Linked DNA regions of Homo sapiens: all the other regions are linked to region 1. The links come from fine-mapping of genetic effects on gene expression. A gene starts in region 1. Each other region holds a variant in brackets. All regions are shown on one strand. Distances are from middle to middle. Region 1 holds the start of MARK4 (microtubule affinity regulating kinase 4). Region 2 overlaps MARK4 (microtubule affinity regulating kinase 4). Region 3 overlaps MARK4 (microtubule affinity regulating kinase 4). Region 4 overlaps MARK4 (microtubule affinity regulating kinase 4). Region 5 overlaps EXOC3L2 (exocyst complex component 3 like 2).

Region 1 (5,938 bases):
AAACAGGATGTGAACCCAAGTTTATCTGAACAATTAAAGTAGTGCTAATAACCACAACAGCCACGACACATGCCAGGCCCTGTGCACCTTAGTCACATCACGTCGCTGGCTCCTGCAAACATCCCTAACAGTGGGGGGCCATCATCAACCCGATTTAGAGATAAGGAAACTGAGGCTGCAAGCTGGGAGTGAATCTGCAGGCTCACTCAACAACCAATAACAGCCCTGAGCTGAGAATCCACGGGCTGTCTGACTCATACCCACAGCCACAATAGCAGCTGGCATTTGTGGAGTGCTTCCTAGGTGCCAGCCTTCGCCTGAATCGAGTAAGCCTTGGAGGCACTCAAGCGGTCACCCCTATTTTCCAGGGCAGGAAACTGAGGCTCAGAAAGGGAGAACTGGTTGTCTGAGGACACAAGGCAAACCAGCTGGCCATGTCAGCATTGGAACCCAGGACTGTGGAGCCCCTGGCACCTCACTGTAGATTGTAGTGACCAAGGAACAGAGGTGGTAGGCATTTCATTAGACTCCAAATTGGAGTTCTGGCCCATAGTGATGATGCGGGGTGGTCTCTGTGAGGGAGGGATCTGCAAGATGAGGAAGGGACAGATATAAATCTCTCTGATGGTGTGTGTGTGTGGGGGGGTCTGTCGGAGGTGAGGGAAACAGGGGGAAGGGGAACAGGGACCTGGCAGAAGGATTTGGAGAAAGCCACAAAGATCCCAGGTGGGGAGAAGTCTAGGATTGGGTGGTGGGCAGGTCTTTGGAAGTGATCAGTGATCAGAGACACAGGAGATGGGGAGGGGCCTCTCTGGGAAGCAGTGTAGGGGCAGGGGGCGCCTGGGAATGGTGGAAAGTGACAAAGCCATGGGGGCAGTGGAAGTCAGAGGCCAGGAATCCCTGGGTCTTGGGGAAGCTCCTAGGAATCAGAGAAGGGGGCTTCTAGGAGAAGTCCTTGAAACCAGAGAAGGGTCTGGGGGGCCTGGAAGTATGGGGTAGGAACTTCTTGGGCAAGGAGCAGCCCAGATGAATAAAGGCTGAGCCCTGGGGAAGGTCAAGGGGTCTAGAAATTTGGGGAGAAAGCTTCCAGCAGATTGACCCAAGGGAAAAGGGCTTGAAACCAGGGCAAGACGAGAGGCTTCAGGTCCAGGAGTTTTCTGGAAGAAGGATCTGGGGCCAGGCCCTGTAGCTGAGGAAGGCCTCTGAAGCTGAGGAGGGGGCTTCCTTGGAAGGCCAGACTCCCAGCAAGGAAGGGGGAGGCCCTGGGGCAGGAGAAAGGACGGTGGTTTGTGGGGAAGGGGTCTGAGTTTGGCCTAGCAGGGGGTCCAGAGGTTGGGGGTTGGGGAAGGGGCTGCCTGAAGCTGAGAAGTTGATAGAGGGCGGATGAGGCCTGGAGTCAGACTGGTCCAGGGCCTAGAAATACCAGCCTGGGTGAGGTGAGGGCCTAGAAGTTGGAGGCCAAGGCTTCCTGGGAGAGGAAGAGACCAGAAAGGGTCCAGGTGGCATCTGGGGGCCCCGGGGTGCTGGGATCTAGGGACAGGGCTGCTTGGAAGATGGGGACCAGGCCTGGGACGGGAGAGACCTTGAAGAAGCCAGAAAAGGGCCGGGGCCCAGGAGAGGTGGAAACCAGCTTCCTGCCAGGGGCTGCCCACAGGCGCCCTGGGTGCGTCCTGGAGGGGCAGAGGGCTGGGAATAAGAGGAGGGGGGCTCCTGGGGAGCCGGCACCCAGCCCCAGACAGGGAAGGCCGGAGCCAGAGGCAGGACTGGGCCAGGCCCTGCTGAGAGTGCCAGGGCCGGGCCTTGGGGGGTCAGGGGCCCTGCAAATCCGGGAGGGGGCGAGGTGTCGGACGCGGACGGCCTGGAGGGGAAACGGCTTAGCACAGGCAAGAGAAGGGAGGGGCTCCTGGAAGCAGGGGAAGGGGCTTCCTGGAGGGAACAGACCCGAGCGGAAGCGGTCTGCACGGGGACAAGAGAGGGGTCCCGAGAGAGGGGCGCCCCCAGGGGTCGGGCTGGGCTGGAAAAGGTGGGGAGGGTGGAGAGGCCTGGAAGTCCGGGAGGGGTCGAGAGGTGACGAGCCGGGTCGGGCCCAGGAAACGAGGGTAGGGGCTCGCGGGGCGAGGGGTACAACGGGGAGAAGGGTTTGGCGGCTGGACCCAGCCAGGGCTCCCCAAGGGGCCGGGCCCCACTCACCGTGTCCGAGTTCCGATCGTTGCCCGGGGCCAGCACCGTCCGCGAAGACATCTTCTCCGGGTCCCGGGGGGCAGGGGCGGCCGGGTGGGGGGGGCGGGGGTCCCAGGGTCCCCTCTCTTCCCCTCCCCCCCCGCCGGCCTGGGGACGCGAGCTCAAAAGCTGGGCGCCGAGAACGCCCGGGTCCGCGCGGCGGGAGAGGGGGCAGGGCGGGGGAGGGGAAGGGACGCCGAGGGTCCTAGTGGCCCCGTGCAGCGGGGACCCCGGGCGCCATGGGGGCGGCGGGCAGGCGGGCGGGCGGGGGCCGCGGAGGGGGCGCGGAGCCGGCCCAAGCGGCGGCGGAGGGAGGCGGTGGAGGGGCTGGGGAGGGAGGAAGGGACGTCAGGGGGAGGGGCGGGCAGGGCGGGGCGCCGGGACCCCGCCCCCCGCCGCCGGCCCTTAAAGGCGCAGGCCCGGGCTGGTCGGGGCGCCGGGGGCTCCGGGGGCTCCGGGGGCGGAGGCGGGTCTGGGCACGCCGGCGGGGAGCGTGTTCTCGCCCGAGACGAGAGGCGCACTGGAGAGGAGAGAAGGGGAGAGAGAGGCCGGGGCAGAGCGCCAGAGACGCAGAGAGAGAGATCGAGAGACGTAGAGATAGAGAGACACGAAGAGAGAGAGACGAGTTACAAAAGGGTGGAGAGGCGCAAGGAGATGAAGGAAGAGCCAGATGACAGAGAGAGAGAGACGCAGGGAGACAGAGACAGAGAGACCCAGAGACGCAGAGGGACAAAGACTGAGAGAGACCCCACACACACACAGGGAGAGACAAAGAGATACAGAGACGCAGAGATCTGTGAAGAGATAGAGATAAAGGGACTGAGCCAGAGAAGACCCCAGAGGCGCTGCCCACATTGTCCCTCCCCCTGGCCCATTCTCTCCCCAGTTGGCGGGGGGGAGCGGGGGAAGCTCTCCCCTCGGAGGCCTAAGGGTGGGGTGGGTGAAGGGGATGGTGTGCGGGGCTTGGCCACTGCTGAGGGCTCAGTGACCTCCCTAGTCAGGCTGCCTCCACTCAGCCACATAGATCCAGACCCGCAGGTTGGGGCTGCAGCATCCACTCCTTTGCACCCCAGCTGGGGTGTGGGGACCCTCTCTGTCCACCTGTATGACCCGGGGCAAGCACTTGCCCTTTCTGGGCTTCACTTTCCCAGTTTGTAAAGTGAAAGGAAGAATCCGTGTGTTGCTCACTGGCAGGTGCGAAGGAACCCTGTGCAGGTATTCGCCTGCAGGGCACAGCCACTCCCCATGCGGGCAGGCTGAGACCAGAGAGGACAAGAGCCTCTCGGAGGCCACACAGCGCTGTGGGGACCATCCATGCTCTGTGGACCAGGGTGGGATGAAAGAAAGACAGGCATTACATAGTCTTGGCCTGGGAGTCACATGGTTTTGGGAAGGGGTCTGTGCCCTGCCTTCTTCTATCTGAGGCTTATTTTCCTGAGCCTCAGTTTCCCCTTCTAAAACAGCAGTGTGCTGGATCTGGCTGGAGCGAGCTGATTGTTATGTCTCAGGAATTTTGGAACTGGTTGTTAAACACAGCCATTATTAAAAATTAAATTATGCAAACATACAATTAAATTACATTAAAGGTACAAGTAATACATACTCATCACGTCCTAGTTATCTTACTACATTTGCCATTATCTGTGATCTTGAGGTTACCTACGTCTATTGTAGCTGCACAGTAAAATTACTATATAATGGGGGGCAAAAATGCCATGTGATATCACCTTGGTAGCTTGAAATTAGCCATGGTGGGAATATTTACACCATGGAAATTGGCAAATGCTACAAATTAAGGCTCCACACCCCCACCTGCAGAGAGCTGGGGGTGTTTTGTTTTGCTTTGCTTTGTTTTGTTTTTGAGACAGGGTCTCACTGCATTACCCAGGCTAGAGTGCAGTGGCACGATTATGGCTCACCGCAGCCTGGACATCCCCGGCTCAAGCAATCCTCCCAGCTCAGCCCCACCAAGTCACTGGGACTACAGGTGTGCACCACCACGCCCAGCTAATTTTTTGTAGCCATATTGCCCAGGCTGATCTCCAACTCTCAGGCTCAGGCGATCCTCCCACTTCGGCCTCCTAAAGTGCTGGGACTACCCTGCACTCAGCCAAAAGCTGGTTGTGAAAGCACAGCACTGCTTGATACTATGAGCAACACAGACTCATGGCAGTTGCCCTTGTGCCAGGCTCTGAGCAGTTTCTCCTTTCTGCCACCCCAAGAGGTAGGGAGCATCTTTATCAATCCCATTTGCAGATGAGGAAACAGAGGCCCAAGGAAGGGAGAAACGTCACACGCTGAAGGTCACACGGCAAATTAGTGGCAGGGCTACAATTTGAATCCAAGTGCTCCCAAGTTCCAGAACTTGGACCCTCTCTCAACCACTGTGGTTTCCTGTCTCCGAAAAATAATAGCAGCAACCTCAGGCTGCTACTATTTTTATTTGTCAATTTGTTTATATTTATTTGTTATTTTAATGTTACTGCTAACAAATAAATGAGAATCTTTGAGTAAAGTGCTTCACAGGGGACCAGATTCAAAATTCATATGTGGGGACATTATTATTACTATTTGGCAAATATGGCCCGAGGAGCCTCAGGGACAGTGGCAGAGAGGGTGGAGTTCCGGGGTAGTGTTCTAGACGTACTGTGATCCCAGGGACGCCGCAGGGTGAAAGTGGGGGTCTTGGGGGTAGGCTAGAGGGGCTGAGCGCCCCCAACCCGTTCCCTGCATTGGCGCTGAGAGCTGCAGTTCTACCGTGCACCACACGGGGGCAGCCGATCACCTCCCTACACGCGCCCCACACACTCCAGGGTCCACCCCTGCCCTCCCTTCCCCAACAGCGTCCCCACCCCATTTCCCAGATGTGGGGGGACCGAGGCTTACAGAGAGGGAGGCTGCAAAGTGGATGAACCTTGAAAACAGCATGTGGCCGGGCGCGGTGGCTCACGCCTGTAATCCCAGCACTTTGGGAGGCCGAGGCGGGCGGATCACGAGGTCAGGAGATCGAGACCACGGTGAAACCCCGTCTCTACTAAAAATACAAAAAATTAGCCGGGCGCGGTGGCGGGCGCCTGTAGTCCCAGCTACTCAGGAGGCTGAGGCAGGAGAATGGCGTGAACCCGGGAAGCGGAGCTGGCAGTGAGCTGAGATCGCGCCACTGCACTCCAGCCTGGGCGGCAGAGTGAGAATCCGTCTCAAAAAAGAAAAAAAGAAAACAGCATGTTTAGCGAAAGAAGTCAGACGCAAAAGACCACTTACTGTATGCTTCCATTCATATGAAATATTCAGAATTGGCAAATCCATAGACAGAAAGTAGATTAATGGTTGCCAGGGGTTGGAGGCTGGGGAATGAGAAATGACTGCTGATGGGTACCAGGTTTCTTTTTGGGGTGATGAGAATGTTCTGGAATTAAATAGTGGTGACGCTTGCTGCAACCTTGTGAATATACTAAAACCTACCGGACTCTGTTTGAAAAGGGTGACTCTTATGTATGTGAATTGTATTTCAATAAAAAATAATAATAAAATTTAAAAAGGGGGCTGGACGCGGTGACTCACACCTGTAATCCCCGTACTTTGGGAGGCCAGAACGGGAGGATCACTTGAGCCCAGGAGTTCGAGACCAGCCTGGGCAACATAGTGAGACCCTGTCTCTAAATCAAAATAAAAAAAATAATTTTTAAAAAGGAGGGGGACGGGCACGGTGGCTCACGCC
Region 2 (5,938 bases), 33 kb before region 1:
TACAGGTGTGTGCCACCCCACCTGGCCTGTACCATTAGACTGGGAACAGCCTAAATGCCCCTTAGTAGAGGAATGACTAGATAAGTCAAGGTATTTCCACAGTGGAAAATTATGCAGCTATAAAAAAGAATAAGGAAGCACTTTATGCACCAGTACAGAATGATCTTCATGACGGACTGGAAAGTAGAAAAGGCAAGACAAGAGATGGGTCAACAATGTGTTATCATTTGTCTACAAAAGCAAAAAAGTGTGTATCTATATCTACTTGCTTATATATGAATATCTCCAAAGGACTATAACTTGTTTCAAAAGGGGAGAATTTATTGTTTTTATATATCTTAAGTTTCCTTCTTTTTTTTAATTTTTTTATTGAGACAGGATCTCACTCTGTTGCCCAAGCTGAAGTACAGTGGTGTGACCTCAGCTTGCTGCAACCTTGGCCTCCTAGGCTCAAGCCATCCTCCCACTTCAGCCTCCCAAGTAGCTGGGACTACAGGCACACACTACCATGCCCACCTAATTTTTGTATTTTTTTTTGTAGAGACAGGATTTCGCCATGTTGTCTAGGCTGGTCTCAAACTCCTGGACTCCAGCGATCCTCCCACCTTGGCCTCCCAAAGTGCTGGGATTACAGGCGTGAGCCACCGCACCCGGTCCCATATTTATCTCTTTACATGTTTGTTTATGAATAAAATCTCTCCAAAGGAATTCATATTAAAACCCATAACAGGGCCAGGCGCGGTGGCTCACGCCTGTAATCCCAGCACTTTGGGAGGCTAAGGCGGGTGGATCACAAGGTCAGGAGATTGAGACCAGCCTGGCTAACATGGCAAAACCCTGTCTCTACTAAAAATACAAAAATTAGCTGGGCATGGTGGCATGCACCTGTAATCCCAGCTACTTGGAAGGCTGAGGCAGGAGAATCGCTTGAACCTGGGAGGCAGAGGTTGCAGTGAGCAGAGATCACACCATTGCACTCCAGTCTGGCAACAGTGCGAGACTCCGTCAAAAAACAAAACAAAAACAACAACAAAAAACCGTAACAGTTGCTGCATTTGAGAAACTGGGAGCTGGGGATATGTGTTGGATGAAGACTTTTTCACTGTCTATCCTTTCCAAACTAACACATTTTCAAGGATGTTATTGTATGAACAATTTCAAAAGCAACACAAAATAATTCTGGTCTCTAGGAACATCTTAGGAATCTACTGTTTTAGAACCCGGGGGTGAAAAGTGATCTCAAACTTGAGAGGGTCAGAAGGTCTGCTTGTTACATCCTCAGGAGCGATACATGCTCAGAAGTCCCAGAACCACAAGCTGAGAGCTCTACAATGACAATGACAGATACCTGGCACCTGCCAGCAATCCCTCTCTGAGAATCCCTGGAACTCAGGTCTCAGTGTGGGGAGTTCTGAAGGTTACCACGTTCTAACCATATGATACCAAAGTCACAAGCTCCTTAGGAACTTTCTGGGCACGCCCTGTCATTTTACAGGTGGGAAAGACAAGACGCAGGGGCAGGGAATGGTTTGACCTCCAGCAATGGTGGGGGTAGGGCAGAAGCACCACTTCCCGTGTGGGGCTCATGCTGGGTCTCAGATTCCCTGACACCTCTCTCCTCCCTCACTTCAGTGTGGAGGGGAGGTCAGAGCGCAGGCTTTCAGCAGCCACTTTGTGCAATGTGTCCTCCTGTGCCCCCATTACAGCAGATTAATCCCAACTGGACTCGATATCAGAGCTCCATCCTGATCCTGATGAGTGGACCAAGGAGATTCTAGCTAACACTTGGGCTGGATTCTTTTTTTTTTTTTTTTTTTTTTTTGAGACACGGCAGTCTGGCTCTATCGCCCAGGCTGGAGTGCAGTGGCACGATCTGGACTCATTGCAACCTCGGCCTCCCAGGCTCAAACCATCCTCCCACCTCAGCCTCTCAAGTAGCTGGGATTACAGGTGCACACCACCATGCCCAGCTAATTGTTTTGTTTTGTTTTTGAGACAGAGTCTTGCTGTTGCCGCCCAGGCTGAAGTGCAATGGCACAATCTCGGCTCACTGCAACCTCTGCCTCCCGGGTTCCAGCAATTCTCCTGCCTCAGCCTCCCAAGTAGCTGAGATTACAGGTGCTCACCACCACACCCGGCTAATTTTGATATTTTTAGTAGAGACAGGGTTTCACCATGTTGGCCAGGCTGCTCTCAAACTGCTGACCTCAGGTGATCCACCCAGCTCGGCCTCCCAAAGTGCTGGGATTACAAGGCAAGAGCCACTGCGCCCAGCCTAATTTTTGTATTTTTCTGTAGAGATGAGGTTTCATCATGTTGCCCAGGCTGGTGTCGAACTTGAGAGCTCAAGTGATCCACCCAATTCAGCCTCCCAAAGTGCTGGGATTACAGGCGTAAGCCACTGCACTCAGCCCTGGGCTGGATTCTAAAACTGAGATGTAAGAAATCTAGGAGCGGGCCAGGCGCGGTGGCTCATGCCTGTAATCCCAGCACTTTGGGAAGCCAAAGCCAAAGCAGGTGGATCATGAGGTCAGGCGATCAAGACCATCCTGGCTAACACAGTGAAACCCCATCTCTACTAAAAATACAAAAAATTAGCTGGGCGTGGTGGTGGACACCTATAGTCCCAGCTACTCGGGAGGCTGAGGCAGGAGAATGGCATGAACCCGGGAGGTGGAGCTTGCAGTGAGCCAAGATTGCGCCACTGCACTCCAGCTTGGGCAACGGAGCGAGACTTTGCCTCCAAAAAAAAAAAAAAGAAAAGAAATCTAGGAGTGGCTGGGCACAGTGGCTCACGCCTGCAATCCCAGCACTTTGGGAGGCCGAGGCGGGTGGATCACCTCAGGTCAGGAATTCAAGACCAGCCAGGCCAACACGGTGAAACCCTGTCTCTACTAAAAATACAAAATTAGCTGGGCAAGGTGGCTTGTAATTCCAGCTCGGGGGCCTGAGGCAGGAGAATCAGTTGAACCTGGGAGACTGAGGTTTCAGTGAGCCACCATCGCACCACTGTACTCCAGCCTGGGCGACAGAGTGAGACTCTGTCTCAAAAAAAGAAAAAAAAGAAGAAATCTAGGAGCTGAGAGATCTAGAAAAAGATAAGGTGAGATATGTAAGACAGAGAAAAAAAAGATTAGACAAGCAGACAGCCTAGTACCTGTCCCAGAGTAAGAACTTCACCCCTGCAGACAAGCAGGGCTGTAAAACGAACAGAGTTGGAAAACACCCTGAAAGTTCCTCAAACTATTATTAAACACACAGTTACCAGATGACTCAGCAATTCCACTCCCAGATACGTACCCAAGAGAAATGACGGCAAAACACAGCCACACAAAAACA[C/T]GGATACAAATGTTCACAGCAGCATCATTCACAACAGCCAAAAAGTGGAGGCAATCCACGTGTTCATGAATGGATAAACAAAATGTGGTCTATCTATGCAATGGAATATTACTTGCCAATGAAAAGGAATGAAGTGCTGATACCCATATCATGGATGAACCTTGAAAACTTTCTGCTAAATGAAAGAAGCCAGTCACTGAAGGCCACACATCGTGTAATTCCATTTACCTGAAATGTCTAGAATAGCCAAATTCATCGACATAGAAAGTAGATTAGTAGCTGAGGGTGGAAGGGGGATTGGAAGTTGATTTTTTTTTTTTTTTTTTTTTTTTTTTGAGAGGAAGTCTCACTCTTATCGCCCAGGCTAGAGTGTAGTGGCGCGATCTCAGCTTACTGCAACCTCCGCCTCCCAGGTTCAAGCAATTCTCCTGCCTCAGACTCCTGAGTAGCTGGGATTACAGACGCCTGCCACTACGCCCGGCTAATTTTTGTATTTTATAGTGGAGATGGGGTTTCGCCATGTTGCCCAGTGGTCTCGAACTCCTGCGCTCAGGTGATCTGCCTGCCTCAGTCTCCCAAAGTGCTAGGATTACGGGCATGAGCCACCATGCCCTGCCTGGAAGTTGATTGCTAAAAGTTGTGAATTTTCTTTTTGGGGTAATGAAAATGTTCTGAAATCGGTCATCATGATAGATGTACAACTCTATAAATATATTAAAGCCACTGAATTGTGCACTTTTTAATTTATTTTTTGAGATGAGGTCTCGCTCTGTAACCCAGGCTGGAGTACAGTGGCGCGATCACGGCTCACCACGACCTCGATCTCCTGGGTTCAAGTGGTCTTCCTACCTCAGCCTCCCAAGTAGCTGGGACCACAGGCGTGTACTACCACACCTAATTTTTAATTTTTTAGGGGGCGGGGTGGCGGAGTCTCGCTCTGTGGCCCAGGCTGGAGTGCAGTGGCGTGATCTCGGCTCACTGCAACCTCCACCTCCCAGGTTCAAGCAATTCTCTGCCTCAGCCTCCCGAGTAGCTGGGATTACAGGTGCCCGCCACCATGCCTGGCTTTTTTTGTATTTTTAGTAGAGACAGGGTTTCACCATCTTGGCCAGGCTGGTCTTGAACTCCTGACCTCGTGATCCTCCCACCTCGGCTTCCTAAAGTGCTGGGATTACAGGCGTGAGCCGCTGTGCCTGGCCAATTTTTAATTTTTTTGTAGAGACGGGGTCTTGCTATGTTGCCTAGGCTGGTCTAGAACTCCTGGGCTCAAGCAATCCTCCTGCCCTCAGCCTCCCAAAGTGCTGGGATTACAGGCGTGAGCCACCATGCCCGGCCTGAATTGTGCACTTTAAATGGGTACGTTGTTTGGTATATGAATTTTAACCTTAATAAAGCCGTTAAAAAAAATAGAAGAGAGGGTTAAAATTTGATGAGTGTGTGGGTGAAGGGACCTCTCAGAAGTCTCCATGCCTAATGGGTGCTGATGGTGGTGTGTATCCTTTTTTTTTTTTTTTTAATTTTTTTGAGATGAGGTCTCTCTGTTGCCCAGGCTGGTGTGCAATGGCATGATCTCGGCTCACTGCAACCTCCGCCTCCCAGTTTCAAGCAATTCTCCTGCTTCAGCCTCCCGAGTAGCTGGGATTATAGGCACGCACCAACACGCCCAGCTAATTTTGTGTTTTTAGTAGAGACAGGGTTTCACCATGTTGGCCAGGCCGGTCTCAAACTCCCAACCTCAGGTGATCCACTCACCTCGGCCTCCCAAGGGATTACAGACATGAGCCACCGTGCCTGGCCCAGATTTAAACTCAGACTCTGTATTCATTTTCTGCAGCAGATGAGATGTCTGTCAGTTGCAGAATGTGGGGTATAATCAGCTGTCCGCCCAGCTCTCTTCCAGAGCCTCCTTTACTTCAGTGTGGAGGCAAAGCCAGAGGGCAGACTCTCAGCAGCCACTTTGTACAACGTGTCCTCCTGTGCCCCAGTTACAATGGATTAATTCAAACTTGACTCTGATATCAGAGCTTCATCCTGGACCAGAGATTCCAGCTGCCATTTGGACTGGTCTCTAAGGTAAGAAATTGGGGGCTGGGTGCAGTGGCTCACACCTGTAATCCCAGTACCTTGGGAGGCTGAGGTGGGTGGATCATGAGGTCAGGAGTATAAGAGCAGCCTGGCCAACATGGTGAAACCCTGTCTCTACTAAAAATACAAAAATTAGCCAGGTGTGGTGGCAGGTGCCTGTAATCCCGGCTACTCAGGAGGCTGAGGCACAAGAATCGCTTGAACCCAAGAGGTGGAGGTTGCAGTGAGCCAAGATCACGACACTGCACTCCAGCCTGGGATACAGAGTGAGACTCTGTCTCAAAAAAAAAAAGAAAGAAAAGAAAAGAAAAGGCTGGGCACAGTGGCTCACACCTGTAATGCCAGCACTTTGGGAGGCCGAGGGTGGATCACGAGGTCAGGAGTTCAAGACCAGCTTGGCCAACATGGTGAAACCCCATCTCTACTGAAAATACAAAAATTAGCCGGGGGGTTATGGCAGGCGCCTGTAATCCCAGCTACTCGGGAGCCTAAGGCAGAAGAATCGCTTGAACCT
Region 3 (5,938 bases), 46 kb before region 1:
GGTTCGTCTGCGACCCTAGGGGAGGGGAGGGGGACAGAGTGTCTAATCTGGACATAGGGAACCCACCTCCCGCAACCCACTGCCTCTGGGACTCCAAGCAGCCCCTGCCTCAACCCCAGTCCCTCCGGGCTGGTGAGGGCCTGGAGTCAGGATTTGATCTCCTTGTCCATCCCCATAACGGGGCTCATTCTGAAATGGTTAGTGCAGGTCACAGGAAAGATACTGAAGAATGTGGAAGATGAAAGGGAGGGGAGTGGGCAGAGACACACCCTTACATAGATAAGTGGCCACAGAGAGAAAGAGAGAGACACACGCACGTGTGCACACACACACACTCCCTCGCTCACATATACATTCATGCTTTGCTCAAACAACACCTCCTTCGTGAGGCCTGCCCTTTTTTCTTTTTTTGAGACAGAGTCTCACTCTGTCATGCAGGAGTGGCGTGATCTCAGCTCGCTGCAGCCTCAACCTCCCAGGCTCAAGCAATCTTCCTGCCTTGGCCCCTGAAGTAGCTGGGACTACAGGCGCGTGCCACATCTGCTTTTTGTTTTTTGTTTTGTTTTGTAGAGATGGGGCTTTGCCACATTGCCCAGGCTGGTCTCAAACTCCTGGACTCAAGTCATCTGTCCAAAGTGCTGGGATTGCTGGCCTGAGCCACCTCATCCAGAGGCCTGCCCATTTAATGCTGCACCCCATCCCTTCCCCACACCCCTTATTCCCCTCCCTGTTCAATTTTTTTTTTTTTTTTTTTTTTTTTTAGAGACAGGTTCTCCCTCTGTTGCCAAGACTGATGATCATAGCTCACAGCAGCCTTGACCTCCTGCGTTCAAGTGATCCTCCTGCCTCGGCCTCCCAATTCCATGGGAATACAGGTGCAGTCACCACGCCCGGCCAATTTATTTACTTTTTTGTAGAGATAGGATCTTGCTACGTTGTCCAGGCTGGTCTTGAACTTCTGGGCTCAAGTGATCCCCTCGCCTCAGCCTCCCAAAGTGCTGTGATTACAAGCATAAGCCACCAAATTTGGCTCCTACTCTATTTTTCTTCTTAGTTACTTCGCACTACCTAGCAGTCTATATAGTAAGTATATTTTACTTATTTCTTTGTTTTTTGTCTAGATCCCTTAGTAGAATGTTGGGTCTGCCAGGGCAGGAGTTTTGTACATTTTGCTCACCCTCTACTACAGGGCCTAGGACAGTGCCAGGCACACAGTAGGGGCTCAATGAATAATAGCAATTAATAACTAATACACATGTAAAGCACTTTCCAAGGCAATGTTCTACGCTCAGTCCATACGTCACTTCATTTAGTCCTCACAATAACCCTAGGAGACAGGTATTGTTATTACTATACCCATTTTACAGAAGAGGAAAACCAGGCCCAGAGACCTTGAGTGACTTGCTCAAGGTCACTTGGCAGAGCTGCCATTTGAACCCCCGAGTCTGGCTCCATAGGCTGTGCTTCTGTGAGTAAATGAACAACCAGACCCCACGCACAGACCCTCACATCCACAGAGCCCCCTCCCAATGCCCGCACACACAGGTCAGACATGCAGGCAGGGAGGCAGAGCCAGCGAGAACAGGGCATGGACGGGACTTACTGATCTTGGATCCCTGGGGCAGAGAGGCGCCCGAAACACAGCGGTTAGAGTTCTGCCGTTTAGAGGGATCGAGGGTAACCCTGCAGTGTGAGGAGGGAGGTGAGGGGTGACAGGGGAGGAGGAAAGGAGGAGGAGGAGGAGGAAACGAGGAGGAGGAGGAGGAGGAAGAGGAAATGTTGGGGTACAGGAGACAGAGCAGAGTGGAAGACAGGTTAGGTCCCATCGGCCCCCCGCCCCGCCCTGCCCCTGCCATCCCCGCGGAGCTCACCTTCGGGTCAGTTTGGAGGTCAGCTTGGTGAAGAGGTTGGTGGTGGGGCGGGGCCGCCCGGCGGGCAGGGGTGCAGCCTCATGGGCCAGTGTGGGAGAGGCAGGGGGCCCATTCTGCACACCCCCACCACCCCCACCCCCTGCCCGCCGGTCCCGGACCTGGCCACCATGGAAGGTGCTGCGGATGGTGGAACCACGTGCCAGGCGGCTCCGCTCCCCTGATGGGGGTGCCAGGCTGTGACTGGAGGGGGAGGCAGGGGGCACCCGTGGGGTGCCTGAGCTGTGGGCAGAGACAGACAAGTCAGGGTGGGGGACTGAGGCAGGCCAGGGCCCCAGTCCCTTTGATTCTTCACATTCCTGTCCTGAGACCAGGGACTGCAACCAGCCTGGAACTCAGAGACAGGGCTGCAACGTACAGTTGTGCAGGCTGTGCACTATACAATCCTAGCATTATTTTACTGACTCTCTCCTCTCCTATTACCCCTCCTTCAAACTGTCCCTTCTTCAAACTCTACCCGCTCCAAATCATCTCCTATCACAACTCTCCTCTCTCTAAACGCAGCAACTGAATAGATGCACAGACATTTTTGGGTGACTTCCTTGCTATTTGCCGAAACCTCAGGAACCAAATCAACTTGGCAAACACTTTGCTATCTGAACTCTCACCATCTAAAATCAGGAAAGGGATAGATGTAAAGGTCAAGGATACCTGTATTCACTATGGTAATCTGGGCAGTGGGGGTTCCACTGTCCCAGGACCCTCCTCCAGCCCCTCGGACCCTCCTAGTCGACAGCAGGGGCCAGACCTCCATCTCCTGAGTTCAATTCTCCTGCCTCACCCTCCTGAGTAGCTGGGATTACAAGCGTGTGCCACCATGCCTGGCTAATTTTTTTTTTTTTTTTTTTTGAGACAGAGTCTCACTCTGTCACCTAGGCTGAAGGGCCATGGGGCAATCTTGGCTACTGCAACCTCTGCCTCCTGGGTTCAAGTGATTCTCCTGCCTCAGCCTCCTGAGTAGCTGGGACTATAGGCATGCAGCACCACGCCTGGGTAGTTTATGTATTTTCAGGAGAGATGGGGTTTCACCATGTTGGCCAGGCTGGTCTCAAACTCCTCACCTCAGGTGATCCACTGGCCTTGGCCTCCCAAAGTGCTGGGATTCCAGGTGTGAGCCACTGCGCCCAGCCCAGACCTCCAATTTCTATCCTCCCAGGGACTCCAGGCCCAGCCTGGATCTCAGAGAAGAATCCTGATTGTGGCAGAGGCTGTTACTTCTCCCTTAGAATCCATCCTCCCTGTTTCGTTCTTGGTAACCAAACCCCTAAGAGTATGAGCACTGCACATGGCCACCCAGCCAGAGACTACATTTCCCAGACTCTCTTGCAGCTAGAGATGGTTATGTGACCATGCTCCGGCCAATGGGATATAAGCAGAAGTGCTCTGTACCATCTCTGGGTGACGCCTTTACAAAGAGTTGTTGCTTGTCCCCTACTCTTTCCCCACTTCTT[C/G]CTGATTGGGAAATGATGGCTGCTGGTGCAGCGGCCTCAGTCCCAGAGCTGGAAACTCATTTTGGGGCTGGAAGAACTTACCTGGGTCCTTGGAGGACCCTCCGGACTAAACGTCCTTTTTATTTAAATTACTCTACCCTGGGATCTCTTTGTTTTTATTACAGCAGCTAGCTGAGTCTATACTTTTTATTTTTTGTTGTTTTTAAATTTTTTTTTAATTTTTGATTTTTTTTGTCTGAGTCTGTAATTTAACTGTTCCACTATCTCTTGAGCAGAACTGGAAGGCCATGTACTACAGTGATTACAAATAAGATTCTGGAGTCAAGTCTGGAATCTGCTTCTTGACTTACCAGCTGTGTGGCCTTGGATAAGTTACTTAACCTCTCTGTGCCTTATGTCCTCAGCTGTAAAATGGAGATATTAGGATCTACCTCACAGAGTTGTTAGGGGCACTGAGCCAGGCAATAGACATAGAAGCCTGGCATGTAGCTGCTGCTTCATGAATGTTCACTATTGTTATTTGATAACCACCAAAAAAAAGCACTCTCAAGTCACTGAATGAAGGCCTCCTAAGCATCAGACCCAGTGCCAGGTACAGGACACACCTGATCTCTACTGCATCTCTATAATGGGGCCTGGAAGTGGACAGCATCAGCCCTTTTTTTTATGAGACGGATTCTTGCTGTGTGGCTCAGGCTGGAGTACAGTGGCGCAATCCCAGCTCACTGCAACCTCTGCCTCCCAGGTTCAAGCGATTCTCCTGCCTCATTCAGCCTTCTGAGTAGCTGGGATTACATGCACATGACATCGTTCCTGGCTAATTTTTGTATTTTTAGTAGAGACAGGGTTTCATCATGTTGGCCAGGCTGGTCTCGAACTCCTGACCTCAGGTGATCTGCCCACCTCGGCCTCACAAAGTGCTGGGATTACAGGTGTGAGCCACCATGCCCGGCCAGCATCAAGCCCATTTTACCGAGGAGGAAACAGAGGCACAGGGATTTACCCGGTCATTCTGCTAGCAGTGTGAGCACAGAGGTAAGATTCGAACTCAGAACTGAGTATTCACAGAATCGTGACTTTTTTTTTTTGAGATGGAGTCTCGCTCTGTTGCCCAGGCTGGAGTGCAGTGGCGTGATCTCGGCTCACTGCAAACTCCGCCTTCCAGGTTCACGCCATTGTCCTGCCTCTGCCTCCAGAGTAGCTGGGACTACAGGTGCCCACCACTGCACCCAGCTAATTTTTTTTTTTTTTTGGTATTTTTAGTAGAGACGGGGTGTCACCATGTTAGCCAGGATGGTCTCGATCTCCTGACTTCTTGATCCACCTGCCTCAGCCTCCCAAAGTGCTGGTATTACAGGCATGAGCCACTGTGCCTGGACAGATTTGTGACTGTTAACTACCCCATTCCTCTGCCCACACCCAGTGGGAACACCTGCACCCACTAATCAGGTGCATCCCAGAGTGTGCCCTGGTGTTGGCCATCAACCTGCCCTACAGCCCTGGTGGGGGGCAGTGTCCTCATCCTGGAGCTGGCCCCATTCTAGCTGGCCTTGACCTGTGATGTGAACCAATCCCTTCCCTCTCTCTGCTCCAGCCAGTCTGAACTGGTTTCCCTCCCTTGCCAGCTGGAAGAGACCTCACAGACTCAGGCCAACAAGCCGGAAAACCAGCCAACCAGATGACGCTGAAGCTGTGACATTCTGGGGCTTCTCTCGAGTTCTAAAAATGGATCATTCAAAAAATCAATTCAGGTTCCCAAGGCTTGTAGGCGGAGAACAGGGCCAACTGCTTTCCTGGTGCTTAAGACTAATTAATTAAGTGGGGAGGATTTTCAGGGGGGTACATGGGTCGATTCTGCCAAGGGCAGGGCAGATACACTCACTCTCTGGTCCCCATGGCACCAGCCTCCAATGCCTATCATCTCAGATCAAGGGAGGTCCTGTTCACCTACCCCCTACTTCCCACCCCTCACCCTGTTGCTGCCCCCTCCGTACCTGTTTTCTTTCCCATTTGGCAACAGTGACGGGCGCTCAGCCCCCGGGCGTTCTGTGCAAACGTAGGTGTTTCTGCGGGTCATCATGCTAGGAGGGAGGTTGTTCTGCAGGAGACACAGCCAGGAAGGGAGTGAGGGGGTGAAGACATGCCCCTGAGCTTCTCCCTCTTCCCTTCTCTGCCCTCCCCATCGATGAATAAGTCAGGGGCTCATGTGGGAACCCAGGGTGAGTAGGAGATGGTGAAAGGTCCCAAAGATGTGAAAGGTTCATGAGTAATCCCAGCCACCGAGGCTGAGTCAGGGGAGACCCCTGGAGACCGGAGAAGAGGGGGGCACTGAGGGAAAACGAGGCAGGGAAGGTTTCCAGGGGGCATCCTTGTCCACCGCTCTTCTCCCAGCAATGCCCACCTTCTTGAGGTCCAGCCCAGCCACACCAAACGTTTGCTAATGTACTTATTCATGCCACATTCTGTCACTGTGACTAGCCTGTGCACTGGCTGTCTCACCTGTTAGAACATTACTCCTACCTTTTCCCCTGACTCACTCCTACATATCTTTCAGGTGTC
Region 4 (5,938 bases), 56 kb before region 1:
CTCTCACCCTCCGCCTCCTTAGTAGCTAGGACGACAGGCATGTGCCACTGTGCCCAGCTAGTTTTCGTATTTTTGGTAGAGACAGCGTTCTGCCATGTTGCTCAGGCTGGTCTCGAACTCTTCACCTTAAGTGATCCGCCCACCTCAGCCTCCCAAAGTGCTGGGATTACAAGCGTGAGCCACCATGCCTGCCCTCAGGTTTTTTTTTTTTTTTTTTTGAGACAGGGTCTTGCTCTGTTGCCCAGGCTGGAGTGCAGTGGTGGGATCATAGCTCGCTGCAGCCTGGACCTTCCAAGGTCAAGTGATCCTCCCGCCTCAGCCTCCCCAGTGGCTTGGACTACAGGCATGTGTCCCACCATGCCTGCTAATTTTTTAAATTTTGTAGATATGTGGGTCTTGCCATGTTGCCCAGGGTAGTCTTGAACTCCTGGGCTCAAGCAATCCTCCGGCCTTGGCCTCCCAAAGTGCTGGGATTACAGGCATGAGCCACCACACCCGGCCATTTCCGGATCTTAATATTTTATGTTCTTTTTTTTTTTTTTTTTTGAGATGGAGTCTCGCTCTGTTGCCCAGGCTGGAGTGCAGTGGCGCGATCTCGACTCACTGCAAGCTCCACCTCCCGGGTTCTCGCCATTCTCTTGCCTCAGCCTCCTGAGTAGCTGGGACTACAGATGCCCGCCACCATGCCCAGATTTTTTTTTGTATTTTTTAGTAGAGACAGGGTTTCGACGTGTTAGCCAGGATGGTGTCGATCTCCTGACCTTGTGATCCGCCCGCCTCGGCCTCCCAAAGTGCTGGGATTACAGGCGTGAGCCACCGCACCCAGCCTTAATATTTTATGTTCTAAGATCCTGCTTCTGAGATGCTAGGATTGGGAGCTAACACACTACGATGGGAAGATTTTCTGGTCCTGAAACCAGATGTAGGATTACCAAGTGTTATCAGTTCTGATCCCAAGCTTCTGTTTGTCAAACATCCTGAGATCCCAAGGATCTATAATAATACTGTTCAAAGACTTAAGTCCCTAAAAGTCCTTGATCCCAGGATTCAGCGTTTTGCAGATCCTGTGACATTAGAGTCTACAGGTTTAAGCTTCTGCGTTTTGAGGAGGCAGATGCCACCCACCTCCCACCCCTCAGGCCCTCTTCCCCCATCGGTGGGCAGATGTTTTGGGGGAGGGCTGGGAATGGGGTTCCCACGGGGCTGACACCTTGGCCTCTTGCTGCGGCACCTTACTCTAGGCACAATGACAACAAGAGCTTCCTGGTGTGGGTGAACGAGGAGGATCACCTCCGGGTCATCTCCATGGAGAAGGGGGGCAACATGAAGGAGGTTTTCCGCCGCTTCTGCGTAGGGCTGCAGAAGGTGGGTGTCTGCCCTTAGCTGCTGACTTCTGACTCCACCTTGAACGCCCCACCTGCTTTCCGAGGCCCCGCCCCTTCCCCTATACTAAGCCCTGCCCCACCCATTTTCCAGGGCCCTGCCCCCCGGACCTGGCTCCACCCCATGCCAAACCCCGCCCCCCAAAACTAGCCCCACCCGCTTTTCAGGGCCCCGCCCCTGGACCCAGCTCCACCCTATGCCCAAGCCCCGCCCGTAAGGATCCGCCTTCAGGCCGGGAGCGGTGGCTCACGCCTGTAATCCCAGCACTTTGGGAGGCTGAGGAGGGTCAGGAGTTCAAGACCAGCCTGGCCAACATGGTGAAACCCCGTCTCTATACTAAAAAATTAATAAATAAATAAATTATCCAGGCGTAGTGGCGCGCGCCTGTAGTCCCAGCTACTCGGGAGGCTGAGGCAGGAGAATCGCTTGAACCTGGGAGGCAGAGGTTGCAGTGAGACGAGATCACGCCATTGCACTCCAGCCTGGGTGACACAGAGAGACTCTGGAAAAAAAAAAAAAAAAAACCCGCCTTCAAAGCGTTCTTAGTCCCCGCCCCTCAAAATCCTGCCTTGGTCCCCATTGTCTAGCCAGCACCCTCGGAATCTCCTACCTCCCTGTTCCCCTCAGAATCCCACCTCCACCACGTTCCCACGCCCTGTCCCTCCGGACCCTGTCCATGTTGCGGGTGCATTTGGGGGTGCCTGCCGGCGCTGACCCCTGGTCCTCTCTCTGAACCTCAGATTGAGGAGATCTTTAAGAAAGCTGGCCACCCCTTCATGTGGAACCAGCACCTGGGCTACGTGCTCACCTGCCCATCCAACCTGGGCACTGGGCTGCGTGGAGGCGTGCATGTGAAGCTGGCGCACCTGAGCAAGCACCCCAAGTTCGAGGAGATCCTCACCCGCCTGCGTCTGCAGAAGAGGGGTACAGGTACGGCTCCCACATCCTTTGCACCACGACGGAGGGGGAGCGAGGGCCCTTTGCAGGGATGCAAGGAGAGGTGCGACATCCCTGCGAGTTCTGGGGATCCGGCAAGGGCTGACCCTCTGTGAGCTTGCATTTCTTCCTCTGTAAAATGGGTGTCAATATGCCTATGTGATAGGAGTCAATGTGGGATTTTCATGATTATATAATATGCATTGCACATGCCCTTGGACCTCCCTCGGGGCCTCAGTTTCCCCATTTATAAAGCGAGGAGTGGTCAGGATTCGACCCTAGGCCGCCTGGCTCCAGAACCCACTCTCTTACCCACTATACTATGTTTGATAACTGAGTGGCGTGGTACCCCATCTGAAGTCAGAGACTCGTGAGCTCACGAATGAACAGGCATTACCTGTGTGCAGGTAACCTGTTACACAGTAGGCACTCACTACATGCGGCTGTTGCATTTGGCACGGGGGCCACGTCCCAGCCCCTCTGCACCTTCGCTGCCTCTTCACGCCCCTGTCCCTTGCTCCCACAGGTGGCGTGGACACAGCTGCCGTGGGCTCAGTATTTGACGTGTCCAACGCTGATCGGCTGGGCTCGTCCGAAGTAGAACAGGTGCAGCTGGTGGTGGATGGTGTGAAGCTCATGGTGGAAATGGAGAAGAAGTTGGAGAAAGGCCAGTCCAT[T/C]GACGACATGATCCCCGCCCAGAAGTAGGCGCCTGCCCACCTGCCACCGACTGCTGGAACCCAGCCAGTGGGAGGGCCTGGCCCACCAGAGTCCTGCTCCCTCACTCCTCGCCCCGCCCCCTGTCCCAGAGTCCCACCTGGGGGCTCTCTCCACCCTTCTCAGAGTTCCAGTTTCAACCAGAGTTCCAACCAATGGGCTCCATCCTCTGGATTCTGGCCAATGAAATATCTCCCTGGCAGGGTCCTCTTCTTTTCCCAGAGCTCCACCCCAACCAGGAGCTCTAGTTAATGGAGAGCTCCCAGCACACTCGGAGCTTGTGCTTTGTCTCCACGCAAAGCGATAAATAAAAGCATTGGTGGCCTTAGCTTTGTGCGATAGTTATTGAGGGAGGACGTGCAATTGGCCACTGTGTGGTCTCAGAGTGGTTTGTCCTGTCTAGGCATGTACTAAACATGTCTTATCCCGGGTCTAAAATGAGGCAAAGTTAGGTCACAGAATCTAGTCCAAAAATTAGAAGGCTCTATGGGGAATCTGAGACCCAGAGAGACACTGAGCCCAGTGTCACTCACCCAAAGCATGGGCCCTTTCCAACTATGGCTTTGAATTAGTCATGCTCAGATCTCAAACACGAGGTCCACGCTGGGGAGGAATGCAGCCAAACGAAATGTCTGAAACTTGAATTTAGCCCAACGGTCTCCAGTTTTGAGACCTCCCATGCAGCTCGTCACATCTACCTATATTCTGCTTCTCAGTGGCCTCCTTCTGTCCCGTCTGACTTCATCCCTCTGTAGCTGCTGCCAGTCCCTTACTTTCTCAAGAACCTGCCATGGCTCCCCATTTCTCCTAGAAAGCTTTTCTGTTATTTTGCAACTCAAGGCCACACTGAAATGCATACCATTTGCTGGAGGCTCACCTTTCCAGTTCTTTCCCCATTACTCCTCTGATTCTTTCACACCTGACACCCTCCAATTCCCACCTCAATGTCTTTGACCAAGCTGTTTCCCTCTCCAATCTGTGAGTCTGAGCATCCCCATGAAGTCTTTAGGGATAGGCCTTTTGGAGAACTCAGTCCCAGGAAGGAACAGGAAAGAGGTGTGGTAGAGCAATTGGTGGAGGGAGAAGAGTTAATAGAAGTCAAGCAGTAGCTGAACATGCATTGGGTGTTGGGCACGTCAATCACCTCCACCCAGTCAAACAGGCCAATGTCTACGTTAACAAGGACACAGTCGGTGGGCCCCAAAAGACAAACGTTTTAGGGAAAAAAAAAAGTGAGGTGGGAGTAAATGGAAGAACCGACAAAGCCCTCAGGAACCTAAGGTGCTTTTTCAAACCTCAAGAGTCACAGAGATTAAGGGCCCTTGTAGTTCAATCTGCCCTCTGTTTTACAGAGGGGAAATTGAGGCCTAGGGATGTCCCCAAAAGTTCCCAGGGAGATTACTACAAGGAAGGTTAGGAGAGATTCTAAACATTAAGGTATGCAGAACCTGTGAGATGCTGTGATGTTCTTTACTGTACTGTCCCCAGTTGAAGATCCCAGCTCCACACCCAGAGGCTACATAGACCACACACGCCAGTGGGGACCTTCTGAGCCAGCCAAAGCCACAGTCCAGACACCTGTTACCAGGTCCTGCCCACTTTGCCTCACAGGACTCTCTTAAATCTATCTGCGCTCTCCCCATCTGTCCAGCCCCGACCTCTTTCCTGATCTTCTGACCTGTCAACTTCCCTCCCTTCCACCCTGCACATAGCACAAACCCGCCCATCTCTACCCTACCTACAACCTTGCCATGGCTCCCCCAGTGCCCTTGGAAGAAAGCCCAGGCCCCTGTCCATAACCTTCAAGGCCCTACTGACGCCCCTAGCCCCATACCTCACAGCAATTCTACACTTACAAAGTCACATGCCATTTGTTGAGGACCTGTCCTCTCTCTTGCTCCCTGGCCCTTGTATGTGCCATTTGCTGTGCCTAAAACGCACTCCTATCCATGTCTAGCTGGCTCCTTCTCCTCCAGGAAGCCCTCCCTGGCTGAGGCAGGCATCACCTCTGGACTCCCCTATACCAGCCCTGCCCAGTCGCTGCCTGAGGACACATCTGCCTCCTCCATTGGACTGTGAGCTCTATGAGGGCAGTGTTGGGGCTGTCTTGATTACCACTGTGTCCCCAGCACAGAGGATGCTCTCAGGAATTGACCAAGCCTCTTCCCTGAAGTTCCCTGAACTTCCATGGTTCCCCAGTGCCATGGGGAGAAAGTCCAGCTTATTCATTTTGGCCCCAAAGGTGCTGTGTGAATAAGCTCCGCCCTTCTGTACTGCACAGACTTCAACCACTATAATCTGTCCAGCTCCCATGCCTTTTCTCCTGCTCATGACACTTGACCTTCCTTTGAGGAACCCCTACTAAGTGCAGCTCTGAGTCTGGCCACTCTAGAGTCACAGTGATTGGTTTAGAGAAAATCACATGGCCCATTTGGGCCAATGAGAGTCTGCCCTGGGACTTTTGCTGGGAAACTGACAATGAGGGTCTTTCTGCTGCAGAAAGCTGGAGGGATAGAAACTTCTAACTGCTGAAGTCATCTGTGCCACCAGGAAAGGAGCCCTTACTTGATAAAAATTACTAGAATTCAACTTACACTGAAAAAATAGATGCAATGGCCTGATGCCTGGATCAAACCTACCTGAAGCCAGGTGCCCCTGGACTATTAAGTAACATAAACCAACAAATACCTTTTTGCTTAAGCAGCGTAGATGGATTATTAGTCCTAATACAGCATTTCTCTTGCTGATTCTCCATCCATGCCCAACACAGCAGCCACACTGAAATTACCCAGTTCTCTGAAGATATACCACATACTCCCACTTCTGGGCTTTTGCCCAGGGCAAACTCAATGCCTAACTAACTCCTACTCATCCTTCAACACCCCATTCCAGCATTAATTCCTCT
Region 5 (5,938 bases), 37 kb after region 1:
TCCCAGAGTTCCAAATTACCTGCAAAACTGGGAGGAGATTATATTATGGATTTTTCTCAAATGTGGCCATAGTATGTCTTCTGCTACATTTTATTTTTTATTTTTATTTTTATTCTTTATTTTTGAGACAGAGTCTCGCTCCGTCACCCAGGCTGGAGTGCAGTGGTGCAGTCTCCGCTCACTGTAACCTCTGCCTCTCGATTTCAAGTGATTCTCCTGCTTCAGCCTCCTGAGTAGTTGGGATTACAGGTGTGCACCACCACGCCTGGCTAATTTTTGTATTTTTAGTAGAGATGGGGTTTCACCATACTGGCCAGGTTGGTCTCGATGTCCTGACCTCTAGTGATCCACCCGCCTCGGCCTCCTCCCAAAGTGCTGGGATTACAGGCTTGAGCCACCACCCCTGGTTTCTGCTACATTTTAGAGATGGTATAACAAGCCAGGAGGGGCAGGAATTGGCAGGGTCAATCTTGGGAGGGTGTGACCCCGCACCCTCCCTCCCCTGCAGGAGTCCCAGGCCTCGTGGCTGGATGCCGTGGTGCCCCATTTGGCTGAAGTCATGCAGCTGGAAGACACGCCCAGCATCCAGGTGGAGGTGGGAGTGTTGGTGCGCGACTACCCAGACATCAGGTGAGACACCCCGCCTGGGCCAGGGCTCGCCGTGCCTGGCCGAGGTCTCCTGGCGGCCTTGGCATCCGTCCCTGTGCTTCCTGCCTCCTGAGGGAGGGAGCCGGTGAGCGTGTCTGACGGCCGTTTCCTGCTGGAACCAGGGCATTATTAATAAGATTTCCCTCCTTCTCCTGCCGCCGCTGCTGCCTCCGCCGCCACCGCCACCAGGGCTCACAAACAAACAGGCGGTCACAGGAAGCCCAGGGCAGGGGGGCGCAGGGCTGCCTGGAGGCAGGAAGGGCCAGCCCGCAGGGGAGCCGCAGGGGACTCAGGGACACGCAGGGCACACGGGCGCACACGCACTGGGACAGCGGCAGGCGCAGGCGGCATTCAACTCCTGCCAGGTCACTTCCTTTGTAGGTGACCTTCTCGGAGCCTCAGTTTCCTCATCCGTTCCATGGGGATAGTAGTATTCTCGTCATAGGGTTATTAGGGAAATTTATCATCATCATCATCATCATCATCATCCATGACTATAGTAACAATTCCAGTTCTCACTCAATGAGTTCTTATTTCAGACCTAAATAAGCATCTTACATGCCAACTTTTTTTCTTTTTTTTTTGAGACAGGGTCTCACTCTGTTTCCCTGGCTGGAGTGCAGTGGCACAATCACGGTTCACTGCAGCCTTGACCTCCTGGGCTCAAGCAGCCCTCCCACCTCAGCCTTCTGAGTAGCTGGGACCACAGGCATGCACCACAATGCCCAGCTAATTTTTTGTATTTTTTGCAGAGATGGGTTTCACCATGTTGCCCAGGCTGGTCTCGAACTTCTGGGCTCAAGTGATCTGCCTGCCTCGGCTTCCCACGAATGGGGAAGTGTGAGCCACCGTTGCCCAGCCCATGCCAACTTTATAAGGGGTATTTTGTTGTTGTTTGTTTTGTTTTGTTTTTTGAGACAGAGTCTCACTTTGTCGCCCAGGCTGAAGTGCAGTGATCTCAGCTCACTGCAACCTCTGCCTCCCGGGTTCAAGAGATTATTGTGCCTCAGCCTCCCAAGTATAGGCATGTGCCACCACGCCCGGCTAATTTTTGTATTTTTAGTAGAGATGGGATTTCACCAAGTTGACCACACTGGTCTTGAGCTCCTGACTTCAGGTGATCCGCCTGCCTCTGCCTCCCAAAGTGCTGAGATTACAGGCGTGAGCCACTGCGCTTGGCCTATAAGTAAGGGGTATAATTAAAGCTATTGAAATATCACGCCTAGCAAGTGGCAAAGGTGGAACTTGAACCCAGGCAGTAGACTGGCTCTAAAACTAGTACACCAGATCGGCCGGGCATGGTGGCTCACGCTTGTAATCCCAGCACTTTGGGAGGCCGAGGTAGGTGGATCACCTGAGGTCAGGAGTTCGAGACCAGCCTGGCCAACATGGTGAAACACCGTCTCTACTAAAAATACAAAAATTAGCCAGGTGTGATGGCACACTCCTGTAATCCCAGCTACTCGGGAGGCTGAGGCAGGAGAATTGCTTGAGCCCAGGAGGCGGAGGTTGCAGTGAGCTGAGATCGCGCCACTGCACTCCAGCCTGGCCAACAGAGCAAGACTCTGTCTCAAAACAAACAAACAAACAAACAAACACACAAAAAAACTAGTGTACCAGATCAGCACACCACACCACCATGTGACAGTGCTGGATGGTGGTGGCAGTGGTGGTGGCTGCCGGAGCAACGCCAGTCCTTGCAGTGCTATTTGGGCAGACACATTCTCAGACATACTCAGAGAAACAGAACCCCAGAAAAACAAGGAGTGAGGCATGAGCGGGTTTCAGTTTCAGCACTGAGGGTGGGGGTCCTGGAATTGATTCAGGGTGGTCAGTTCTGATTCTGGGGGATAAGGTCATGTCCTTGGGAAGGCACATATTCCTGGAGTCCCATGGGGTCCCAAGAAGTCCCAGTATTCTTGCTGATGTGGAGTTTCTGAACTTGAATATTGGATCATGAGTCAGAACTTGAATCTGTAGCTAAGTTTAAGAGTTTGCTAGCTGGGTTGGGTTTAGGGGGTTGAGCTTGAGATTAGGAGGTACCTAGGGCTGAGGATTTAGGGGGAGTGGGGTACAAGGTTTCTTTCTTTTTTTTACTTTTGAAATGGAGTCTCGCTGTGTCACCCAGGCTGGACTGCAGTGGCGCGATCTCAGCTCACTGCAACCTCTGCCTCCCAGGTTTAAGGGATTCTCTTGCCTCAGACTCCTGAGTAGCTAGGATTACAAGCGCCTGCCACCACACCCAGCTTTTTTTTTTTTTTAATGTATTTTTAGTAGAGAGAGGGTTTCGCCATGTTGGCCAGGCTGGTCTCGAACTCCTGACCTCAGGTGATCCGCCTGCCTTGGCCCCCCAAAGTGCTGGGATTACAGGCATGAGCCACGGCACCCAGCTGAGAAGGTGAATTTTAATCACGAGCTGAGGCTTGGGGTGAAAAGGAAGATCCCAGGGCTGGTTCTGGGGTTGGTTGTAAGGGGGATTTGGAGATGGTTGGAAGTGAAGTTCTGGAGGGAGCTGGTATGAGGTGAGGGCCTGGGCAAGGGAGCTGATTGGAGGGAAGGCTCTGGAGGGGACACAGAGGCCCCAGAACTCAGGCAATTTCTGGGATAGGTGAGGGGGTCAGGTGGGGTCCACGG[C/G]TGGGTTGGGTGTGTGTCTAGAGCTGGGGATCTGCATGCACCTGTCTGTTCCTCTCCCCACAGGCAGAAGCACGTGGCAGCCCTCCTCGACATCCGTGGCCTGCGCAACACAGCCGCCCGCCAGGAGATCCTGGCCGTGGCCCGGGACCTGGAACTCTCTGAGGAGGGAGCCCTGTCACCCCCTCGGGACCGTGCCTTCTTTGCAGACATCCCTGTGCCCCGCCCATCTTTCTGTCTCAGCCTCCCTCTCTTCCTGGGCCGCCTCCCCCTCTCCCGGCTGGCCAGGCCCAGTTTGGCCTGTCTGCCTCGGCCCCGGCCTCCGTCTCTAGCGCGACCTCGGGCCCAGCGCTGAGGGTCACCCAACCGCCGGCCTTAGTGACCCCATCTATGCTGCTGACAAGCCAACCTCCCGTACGGCGCCCCTCCTGACTCCCTGCCTGGGACCACACACCCCTGGGATAGAAAGACCCTTAGATGTCTTTTCACCCAACCCCAAACTCCCTGTACAGAAGGGAAACAAACGCCAGGCACGGTGGCTCATGCCTGTAATCCCAACACTTTGGGAGGCTGAGGCCGGAGGATTGCTTGAGCCCAGGAGTTCAAGACCAGCCTGGGCAACATAGTGAGACCTGCCCCCTATCTCTACAAAAAATAAAAAATTAGCTGGGCACGGTGGTGTGTGCCTGTAGTCCCAGCTACTGGTGAGGCTGAGGCTGGAGGATCACTGGAGTTCGAGGCTGCAGTGAGCTATGACTGTGCCACTGCACTCCAGCCTGGTCAACAAAGCAAGACCCTTTCTCAAAAAAAAAAAAAAAAAAAAAAGGTAGGGGGAAACAGAGGCCAAAGAGACAAAGCATTTTCCCAAGGCCATGAAGCCTGTTCCCAGCACCTCCCCTCCTGCCATAGCCCAGAGTGGTGAGTGTCGTTCTGGAAGTCTCTACAGAAATATCCCAGCTCCCCCGCCCCTTTCCCTCACCTCAAGGTCTGGCCCCAATCCAATGTATTAAGGAACGTTCGATACTTAGAATAAAGAGGTTTCTATTTAACACAAGGAAGGGCTGAGTCCTGAGTGTGTTGTGGGGAGGAAGGACCGGGGAAGCAGGGCCCCGGGCCAGTGGCTTCTCACACACCCAAGGCCGGGCTGGGCTCCAGCTCCTGGGCAGGGTAGTGGAGGTAGAGGGAGGCTGCATGTGCTGGGAGCGACGCCAACCCATGTACACCTCCTGGCTGTGTGGCTCTGAGGCCAGGCCTTCGCCACTCTGAGCCAGGGTCCCTCGTCTGGTCAATCTCAAAGTGCCTGTCCATTCCTGGTCCTGGTGGCTCCATCTTGGCACACCCTCCCCATCCATCCTTAGCCGGGAAGCTGCCCTGTCAGGAGAGGAAGGAGGTTGGGGGCAGGGCTGGCGGCATCCAGGGCGCCCTCCTGGGTTGACGCAGGAAAGTCTCGGGGTGGGAAAATTTCCAGCCTCTCACCCCCAGCCCCGCCGGATCCTAGTCCCCACGGAGACCTTGAGGTCACCTCCCTGCTGACTCCTGCCCCTCCGGCCTGGGCTGGACAGCCCGTGATGGATGTTTCCTGACTTGTGGGATTTTTTGTGTGTATGTGGTTTTTTTTTTTTTCCCTGAGAAGTCAGAAAGAGGAGGCAGCCAGGGGTTAGCACTGGGGCTGGGTTTGGAACTTCACGCATGCACATTTGAACTTGGGGAGGTAGAGACGAGGGACTCTCGGAGCCCAAGGCTGTGCTTCCTGACCCGAGGCAGGAAGCTGCCCCTCTCTGGGCTGAGGTTCCTGTGCCTTTCTGGGGGAATTGCTTAAACTCTCTTTCCCCAGGCTGAGGCAAGAATGTCCTGAGGGTGCACCTTCCTCACTTTGCCCTCTGAAAATGACATTTTCTTTTTTTTTTTTTTTTCAGTCAGAGTCTCATTCTGTCGCCCAGGCTAGAGTGCAATGGCGCGATCTCAGCTCACTGCAACCTCCACCTCCCAGGTTCAAGCAATTTATTCTCCTGCCTCAGGCTCCTGAGTAGCTGGGATTACAGGTGCCCCCCCTCCACCACCACCATACCCAGCTAATTTTTGTATTTTTAGTAGAGACGGGGCTTCACCATGTTGGCCAGGCTGGTCTCCAACTCCTGACCTCAAGTGATCTACCCGCCTCAGCCTCCCAAAGTGCTGGGATGACAGGCATGAGCCACTGTGCCCAGCCCGAAAATGACACTTTTTATGTTGCCAATATGCAAAAGAGCAAGAGAGGAGTTGAGGAATCAACAATATTGTGCAGTCCATAGACATTTATTATTTATTTTTTAGAGACAGGGTCTTTGCTCTGTTGCCCAGGCTGGAGTGCAATGACACGATCATAGCTCACTGCAGCCTCTACCTCCTAGCCCAAGTGATCCTCCCACCTCAGCCTTCTGAGTAGCTGGGACTACAGGCTCGTGCCAGCACACCCAGCTAATATTTTATTTGTTTTGTAAAGACAGAGTCTCACTATGTTGACCAGGTTGGCCTCAAGCCATCCTCCTGCCTCATCCTCCCAAAGTGCTGGGATTACAGGCGTGAGCCACTGCCACTGCCCTGTAGGCGTTGAATTAAACATATAAGAGCCTCAGTTTGTCAATGTACTTTTCAGATGTTGGTCCTCCATTGAAAAACA

What was found.
Region 2: its variant is fine-mapped to the expression of MARK4 in whole blood (TOPMed, PIP above 0.99).
Region 3: its variant is fine-mapped to the expression of MARK4 in whole blood (TOPMed, PIP above 0.99).
Region 4: its variant is fine-mapped to the expression of MARK4 in skeletal muscle (GTEx, PIP 0.93).
Region 5: its variant is fine-mapped to the expression of MARK4 in monocytes (BLUEPRINT, PIP 0.95).

Annotation. Positions count from the first base shown.
Region 1 is chr19:45,247,892-45,253,829 of GRCh38, reverse strand. It overlaps MARK4 (microtubule affinity regulating kinase 4), which reads right to left and starts at 2,559. Exons shown (of 17, transcript NM_001199867.2): 1 at 2,191-2,559. The coding sequence starts at 2,241. RefSeq lists an enhancer at 1,095-1,651 and silencers at 2,125-2,274, 2,505-2,884.
Region 2 is chr19:45,281,146-45,287,083 of GRCh38, reverse strand. All of the region lies in intron 12 of MARK4 (microtubule affinity regulating kinase 4), which reads right to left. Among named protein-coding and RNA genes, the nearest start is that of MARK4, 33 kb to the right of the region's middle. The variant C/T (reference allele first, on the strand shown) is at 3,340.
Region 3 is chr19:45,293,888-45,299,825 of GRCh38, reverse strand. MARK4 (microtubule affinity regulating kinase 4) reads right to left here. Exons shown (of 17, transcript NM_001199867.2): 14 at 5,374-5,477; 15 at 1,872-2,150; 16 at 1-15. Among named protein-coding and RNA genes, the nearest start is that of CKM, 26 kb to the left of the region's middle. The variant C/G (reference allele first, on the strand shown) is at 3,380.
Region 4 is chr19:45,303,836-45,309,773 of GRCh38, reverse strand. MARK4 (microtubule affinity regulating kinase 4) reads right to left here. Exons shown (of 17, transcript NM_001199867.2): 17 at 4,490-5,938. It overlaps CKM (creatine kinase, M-type), which reads left to right. Exons shown (of 8, transcript NM_001824.5): 6 at 1,242-1,365; 7 at 2,124-2,313; 8 at 2,846-3,361. The coding sequence ends at 3,024. Among named protein-coding and RNA genes, the nearest start is that of CKM, 16 kb to the left of the region's middle. RefSeq lists a silencer at 1,087-1,244. The variant T/C (reference allele first, on the strand shown) is at 2,997.
Region 5 is chr19:45,210,765-45,216,702 of GRCh38, reverse strand. It overlaps EXOC3L2 (exocyst complex component 3 like 2), which reads left to right. Exons shown (of 12, transcript NM_001382422.1): 11 at 509-630; 12 at 3,346-4,333. The coding sequence ends at 3,634. It also overlaps a transcript of BLOC1S3 not described here. Among named protein-coding and RNA genes, the nearest start is that of EXOC3L2, 32 kb to the left of the region's middle. RefSeq lists an enhancer at 257-791. The variant C/G (reference allele first, on the strand shown) is at 3,283.